2 separate regions of the Homo sapiens genome follow, and region 2 is reported to be linked to region 1. Evidence: microRNA targets listed by miRTarBase, many of them from high-throughput screens and not tested one by one. Region 1 holds a microRNA gene; the other region holds the end of a gene's coding sequence.

Region 1 (4,068 bases):
GACTACCTATAGAATAAAACATTAATATGATTTAAATCCTAAAATTATGGCAGTAATGTAATTGGTATCAAATTATTCAAACTATTTCATTTAAATATACTTAATTAATAATTGGTAAGTTTAATATTTCCAATTCACTAAATAAAGAACAAAAGTCAGGTTGTTTTCATATATTCTGATATAGTTTTTCCCTGTTACTGACAGCAGCCAAAATAGGATTTGGAAATTATCTTTTATATCAAATATCATGTCTTAAGTTTCAATTTATGATAATTTAATTTACATTCTTTAAACATGATAATTGTAGAAGCCAGGACTCAAAAGGATCATTTGGGCTTCCTCCCCTTTTTTCCAAAAATTTTAATTAAAATTTGAGTCCACCTAACAAGCCACCATAAAATAAGCATTATTACTGTTCCGTTGAATGCAGATTATTTGAATTGCAAGATATCCAGTGTACCTGTCACTTAGACTTTGTGCACTCTTATTTCATTTTGGAGTGAAGCATAAATCATAAGACACCAGATCCTCAGTAAATATCATGGCATTAACTGCCAAATGTAATGAAACGATTATATTTACCATCGCAAACTTCTTATGAGATTCTGATTCCATTTCCACTAAGACACATTATTTATAAGTTGAAAAGTTCATTAAAAAGTGTACATCACAACATAAGGATTAATCCAAATGTTGTAATGATTGTCCTTGAGGATCTCCATGATTAGTTTTTCATTCACTTTTACGTGTGTACCTCGCTACTACCATTTTATATGGCACTCTACATATTACAGTGATAAAAGAAAATCTGTCTTGCAGAGAGTTCATCTTTTTTTTTTTGGAGATGGAGTCTCGCTGTCTCCCAGGCTGGAGTGCAGTGGCATGATCTCGGCTCACTGCAAGTTCCGCCTCCCGAGTTCATGCCATTCTCCTGCCTCAGCCTCACCGAGTAGCTGGGACTACAGGCGCCCGCAACCATGCCCAGCTAATTTTTTGTATTTTTACTGGAGATGGGTTTTCACCCGTCAGGTGAAATGGTCTTGACTTCCTGACCTTGTGATCCGCCCGCCTTGGCCTCCCGAAGTGCTAGTATTACAGGCGTGAGCCACCACACCCGGCCTTGAGAGTTCATCTTTTAAAGGAATCAAGAACTTAATTTGCACTATGCATCTTTTATTACATTGGTTTTCTTGTGAGACCACCGTGCTTCAAAATATTATTTATAAAATTTTACAAAGCATGACAATTCCCATCACATCATGCTATTTTTTCAATAATTCCCATAATAAAGAAAGAAGGAAGAGAGCTTAGTTTTATAAATATGTATATTAATCTTAATTGGGATTACTCTTTCTTTCCTTCTTGGTGATCTTTACTTTTGCAGGAATTCACCATTTTGGCTGTAAGTAAAAGTGTCTGATCTGAAACATAATACCCTCCCTTTTCAATCCTGATGTACCTTCTTCTAGTCTTGGTCTTTGGCACCTTTTTTTCAAGAAGAAACCACAGATCTTTTGAGCTTCTCTGTTGTCCTTGTAGCTCACCTTCAACTTCTTCCTGGATGTTGTTCCCGAAAGCTGTTGTTTCCATTCTGCAGTTCTGAGGAATGGTGGAGGCACCTTTTCCATATAGCCCCTTCTTTGTGTTTCCAGGAAATCATCGGTAGTAATACTCTTACTGTGGTCATAAACATTCTGCGGGAAGAATGCATGTCATGTAAACAGTATTACGTTTCCAGAACGTCTGTAGCTTTTCTCCTCCTTCCCTCCATTTTCCTCTTGGTCTTACCTTTGGCCTAGTGGTTGGTGTAGTGATAATGTAGCGAGATTTTCTGTTGTGCTTGATCTAACCATGTGGTTGCGAGGTATGAGTAAAACATGGTTCCGTCAAGCACCATGGAACGTCACGCAGCTTTCTACAGCATGACAAGCTGCTGAGGCTTAAATCAGGATTTTCCTGTCTCTTTCTACAAAATCAAAATGAAAAAAGAGGGCTTTTTAGGCATCTCCGAGATTATGTGAGAGGGAGAGAATAGTAAAAAGTCCATAGAAAATTTAAAAGCCTGAGTATATCTATTTGCCTTGAAAGCCCTAATTTACAATGAGATATAGGATCATGTTTATTACTGGATATATTTTCAATTCTTGACTCCGAGAAAAAAAATAAACTTTTTAATAATTAATATCCATTGTGTGACTAGCTGTGAAGTAGGCTAGAATGACTCAGAATTGGATCAGCAGAAAGTACAGCTGTGAAAAGCTCAACTTTATTAATGTTTTCCTGTCATGTGAATCTGGTCACTCTTTTTTCCAGAAAATTCCAAGCCTTTCTTTTAACCTTTCTCCTGACATCCATTGACCAAAATACCCCAAGTTGTCTCCCTGCTACATAATCTATAGTTATCTTACTTTTTTCTTCCTACAAACTAATAAATTTTCTAACCTTTAGACTCAGTATCTTTTTTTTGGTTTGAATTCTCAATAGGTACAGAAGATTATCGATCAAAATTAAGTGGAGACTGCTTTGCGGATCTGGCTTGCCCTGAAAAGTGTCGCTGTGAAGGAACCACAGTAGATTGCTCTAATCAAAAGCTCAACAAAATCCCGGAGCACATTCCCCAGTACACTGCAGAGTTGTAAGTTCATCCCCCAACAAAATTCTGGTTGGGATGGAGGGAATGAAAGCATTAAAGCATAAGAATGTTTGTCTTGCCATTTTTATTATTAATAATTGCATTAATTTTAATTAATATGCATTACATTGGCATAACTCTATTTTGTACAAGAATATATTAGAGGCTACCTTCATTCATCTTTCTAGCCAACCATACGATTAAGTACAGAAACTAATTTATCTCTCAAAATTCAGTAAGCACTTCATACTAATAACAATGGTATTTATTTGATGCTTATTTATTGGGTATTATTTATTCCCAATTTGTTTTCTAAGTACTTAGTTTTTAACGTATTTAATTCTTATAGCAACTAAATAAAGTAGTTTGAGAGCCTCCATTTTCAATCTCTGTAAACTATCAATAGATTCAAGGAGTCTGTCTTACCTAATTTACTACTTCATTGACTTACGGGCAGAAGGATTCAGTGGTTATCAAGTATTAAAGTAGAAAGGATAGCTTTTTCTGAACAATGCAAGAAAAGCTGAAAAGGCAGAATATGATGGTATTTACACTTAACAGCCTTAACATAGGACCTTGCACATACTAAGTGCTAAGGTGTTTGTTGGAGCACTTACAGATTCTATGCCCATGCATGGTTTGCCTTTACTGACTTTATTTATAAGAAGAGGACCTTTAATGTTAGTGTTCTAACAATTCAGGGAAAAAACTAGCAAAACCTCATCATTCTCTAAACATCTTAGCCATGTTTATATATAGCACCATCTGGTATTTGTCATTTACTGCTTTGCAAAGTTCGTTGTCTGTTTGTTTGTATATAATCCTTCCATCTTTAACTAGATTATAGCTCCTTGATGACAGGGATTGTGTGTTATTGTTTATCTCTCACTGTGCCTATACTCATGCCTGTACTTAATTAATTTTTAGCAATTTGAATAACTAAAAATAAAGTAATGCCTTTCAAAGAGTTGACAGAAACCCACTATCTTGTAGTTATAGTGATTTTTTTTTTTTTACTCCTATTAGTTGATGAAGCTATTTCACAGCTCCAGGAATTTTAGAAATGCATGGAGTCCATGCAACCAAGGCCCTGAACTTTATTTTTTATAGACATATAGGGATTTATGCTTATTACCTATAATACTACAAACAAGTGATACCTTCCAGCACAATAGTACTTTTTTTTTTTTTGAGACAGAGTCTCACTATCTCACCCAGGCAGGAGTGCAGTGGCACAATCACAGCTCCCTGTAGCCTTGGCCTCCTGGGCGCAAGGGATCCTCCCACCTCAGTCCCCCACCCCCATCTCCCCAAGAAGCTGGGACCTCAGGCATGCACCACCACACCCAGCTAATTTTGTACTTTTTGTAGAGATGGGATTTTGCCCTGTTGTCCAGGCTGGTCTTGAACTCCTGAGCTCAAGCAATCCTCCTGCC
Region 2 (4,062 bases), not on the chromosome of region 1:
GCCATCGGCCGCGGCAAGTGGTGGCGACCTAGTGGGCCCGACTTCCGCTGCATCCCCGACCGCTACCGCGCGCAGCGCGTGCAGCTGCTGTGTCCCGGTGGTGAGGCGCCGCGCGCGCGCAAGGTGCGCCTGGTGGCCTCGTGCAAGTGCAAGCGCCTCACCCGCTTCCACAACCAGTCGGAGCTCAAGGACTTCGGGACCGAGGCCGCTCGGCCGCAGAAGGGCCGGAAGCCGCGGCCCCGCGCCCGGAGCGCCAAAGCCAACCAGGCCGAGCTGGAGAACGCCTACTAGAGCCCGCCCGCGCCCCTCCCCACCGGCGGGCGCCCCGGCCCTGAACCCGCGCCCCACATTTCTGTCCTCTGCGCGTGGTTTGATTGTTTATATTTCATTGTAAATGCCTGCAACCCAGGGCAGGGGGCTGAGACCTTCCAGGCCCTGAGGAATCCCGGGCGCCGGCAAGGCCCCCCTCAGCCCGCCAGCTGAGGGGTCCCACGGGGCAGGGGAGGGAATTGAGAGTCACAGACACTGAGCCACGCAGCCCCGCCTCTGGGGCCGCCTACCTTTGCTGGTCCCACTTCAGAGGAGGCAGAAATGGAAGCATTTTCACCGCCCTGGGGTTTTAAGGGAGCGGTGTGGGAGTGGGAAAGTCCAGGGACTGGTTAAGAAAGTTGGATAAGATTCCCCCTTGCACCTCGCTGCCCATCAGAAAGCCTGAGGCGTGCCCAGAGCACAAGACTGGGGGCAACTGTAGATGTGGTTTCTAGTCCTGGCTCTGCCACTAACTTGCTGTGTAACCTTGAACTACACAATTCTCCTTCGGGACCTCAATTTCCACTTTGTAAAATGAGGGTGGAGGTGGGAATAGGATCTCGAGGAGACTATTGGCATATGATTCCAAGGACTCCAGTGCCTTTTGAATGGGCAGAGGTGAGAGAGAGAGAGAGAAAGAGAGAGAATGAATGCAGTTGCATTGATTCAGTGCCAAGGTCACTTCCAGAATTCAGAGTTGTGATGCTCTCTTCTGACAGCCAAAGATGAAAAACAAACAGAAAAAAAAAAGTAAAGAGTCTATTTATGGCTGACATATTTACGGCTGACAAACTCCTGGAAGAAGCTATGCTGCTTCCCAGCCTGGCTTCCCCGGATGTTTGGCTACCTCCACCCCTCCATCTCAAAGAAATAACATCATCCATTGGGGTAGAAAAGGAGAGGGTCCGAGGGTGGTGGGAGGGATAGAAATCACATCCGCCCCAACTTCCCAAAGAGCAGCATCCCTCCCCCGACCCATAGCCATGTTTTAAAGTCACCTTCCGAAGAGAAGTGAAAGGTTCAAGGACACTGGCCTTGCAGGCCCGAGGGAGCAGCCATCACAAACTCACAGACCAGCACATCCCTTTTGAGACACCGCCTTCTGCCCACCACTCACGGACACATTTCTGCCTAGAAAACAGCTTCTTACTGCTCTTACATGTGATGGCATATCTTACACTAAAAGAATATTATTGGGGGAAAAACTACAAGTGCTGTACATATGCTGAGAAACTGCAGAGCATAATACTGCCACCCAAAAATCTTTTTGAAAATCATTTCCAGACAACCTCTTACTTTCTGTGTAGTTTTTAATTGTTAAAAAAAAAAAGTTTTAAACAGAAGCACATGACATATGAAAGCCTGCAGGACTGGTCGTTTTTTTGGCAATTCTTCCACGTGGGACTTGTCCACAAGAATGAAAGTAGTGGTTTTTAAAGAGTTAAGTTACATATTTATTTTCTCACTTAAGTTATTTATGCAAAAGTTTTTCTTGTAGAGAATGACAATGTTAATATTGCTTTATGAATTAACAGTCTGTTCTTCCAGAGTCCAGAGACATTGTTAATAAAGACAATGAATCATGACCGAAAGGATGTGGTCTCATTTTGTCAACCACACATGACGTCATTTCTGTCAAAGTTGACACCCTTCTCTTGGTCACTAGAGCTCCAACCTTGGACACACCTTTGACTGCTCTCTGGTGGCCCTTGTGGCAATTATGTCTTCCTTTGAAAAGTCATGTTTATCCCTTCCTTTCCAAACCCAGACCGCATTTCTTCACCCAGGGCATGGTAATAACCTCAGCCTTGTATCCTTTTAGCAGCCTCCCCTCCATGCTGGCTTCCAAAATGCTGTTCTCATTGTATCACTCCCCTGCTCAAAAGCCTTCCATAGCTCCCCCTTGCCCAGGATCAAGTGCAGTTTCCCTATCTGACATGGGAGGCCTTCTCTGCTTGACTCCCACCTCCCACTCCACCAAGCTTCCTACTGACTCCAAATGGTCATGCAGATCCCTGCTTCCTTAGTTTGCCATCCACACTTAGCACCCCCAATAACTAATCCTCTTTCTTTAGGATTCACATTACTTGTCATCTCTTCCCCTAACCTTCCAGAGATGTTCCAATCTCCCATGATCCCTCTCTCCTCTGAGGTTCCAGCCCCTTTTGTCTACACCACTACTTTGGTTCCTAATTCTGTTTTCCATTTGACAGTCATTCATGGAGGACCAGCCTGGCCAAGTCCTGCTTAGTACTGGCATAGACAACACAAAGCCAAGTACAATTCAGGACCAGCTCACAGGAAACTTCATCTTCTTCGAAGTGTGGATTTGATGCCTCCTGGGTAGAAATGTAGGATCTTCAAAAGTGGGCCAGCCTCCTGCACTTCTCTCAAAGTCTCGCCTCCCCAAGGTGTCTTAATAGTGCTGGATGCTAGCTGAGTTAGCATCTTCAGATGAAGAGTAACCCTAAAGTTACTCTTCAGTTGCCCTAAGGTGGGATGGTCAACTGGAAAGCTTTAAATTAAGTCCAGCCTACCTTGGGGGAACCCACCCCCACAAAGAAAGCTGAGGTCCCTCCTGATGACTTGTCAGTTTAACTACCAATAACCCACTTGAATTAATCATCATCATCAAGTCTTTGATAGGTGTGAGTGGGTATCAGTGGCCGGTCCCTTCCTGGGGCTCCAGCCCCCGAGGAGGCCTCAGTGAGCCCCTGCAGAAAATCCATGCATCATGAGTGTCTCAGGGCCCAGAATATGAGAGCAGGTAGGAAACAGAGACATCTTCCATCCCTGAGAGGCAGTGCGGTCCAGTGGGTGGGGACACGGGCTCTGGGTCAGGTTTGTGTTGTTTGTTTGTTTGTTTTGAGACAGAGTCTCGCTCTATTGCCCAGGCTGGAGTGCAGTGTCACGATCTCGGCTTACTGCAACTTCTGCCTTCCCGGATTCAAGTGATTCTCCTGCCTCAGCCTCCAGAGTAGCTGGGATTACAGGTGCGTGCCACCACGCCTGGCTAATTTTTGTATTTTTGATAGAGACGGGGTTTCACCATGTTGGCCAGGCTAGTCTCGAACTCTTGACCTCAAGTGATCTGCCTGCCTCGGCCTCCCAAAGTGCTGGGATTACAGGCGTGAGCCACCACACCCAGCCCCAGGTTGGTGTTTGAATCTGAGGAGACTGAAGCACCAAGGGGTTAAATGTTTTGCCCACAGCCATACTTGGGCTCAGTTCCTTGCCCTACCCCTCACTTGAGCTGCTTAGAACCTGGTGGGCACATGGGCAATAACCAGGTCACACTGTTTTGTACCAAGTGTTATGGGAATCCAAGATAGGAGTAATTTGCTCTGTGGAGGGGATGAGGGATAGTGGTTAGGGAAAGCTTCACAAAGTGGGTGCTGCTTAGAGATTTTCCAGGTGGAGAAGGGGGCTTCTAGGCAGAAGGCATAGCCCAAGCAAAGACTGCAAGTGCATGGCTGCTCATGGGTAGAAGAGAATCCACCATTCCTCAACATGTACCGAGTCCTTGCCATGTGCAAGGCAACATGGGGGTACCAGGAATTCCAAGCAATGTCCAAACCTAGGGTCTGCTTTCTGGGACCTGAAGATACAGGATGGATCAGCCCAGGCTGCAATCCCATTACCACGAGGGGGAAAAAAACCTGAAGGCTAAATTGTAGGTCGGGTTAGAGGTTATTTATGGAAAGTTATATTCTACCTACATGGGGTCTATAAGCCTGGCGCCAATCAGAAAAG

What was found. Region 1 holds the annotated microRNA hsa-miR-218-5p (UUGUGCUUGAUCUAACCAUGU, at 1,835-1,855, shown strand). A microRNA usually pairs through its seed, bases 2 to 8, with sites in the 3' UTR of a target mRNA and lowers its output. Matches are read on the target gene's strand: a 7mer-m8 pairs with bases 2 to 8, a 7mer-A1 pairs with bases 2 to 7 and ends in A, and an 8mer does both.
Region 2: miRTarBase lists SOST as a target of hsa-miR-218-5p. Seed matches in the 3' UTR shown: 7mer-A1 at 727-733 and 7mer-m8 at 1,651-1,657.

Annotation. Positions count from the first base shown.
Region 1 is chr4:20,526,465-20,530,532 of GRCh38, forward strand. It overlaps MIR218-1 (microRNA 218-1), which reads left to right and starts at 1,811; the gene lies at 1,811-1,920. SLIT2 (slit guidance ligand 2) reads left to right here. Exons shown (of 37, transcript NM_004787.4): 16 at 2,485-2,635.
Region 2 is chr17:43,751,571-43,755,632 of GRCh38, reverse strand. It overlaps SOST (sclerostin), which reads left to right. Exons shown (of 2, transcript NM_025237.3): 2 at 1-1,895. The coding sequence ends at 291. Among named protein-coding and RNA genes, the nearest start is that of SOST, 5.2 kb to the left of the region's middle. RefSeq lists a silencer at 1,110-1,312.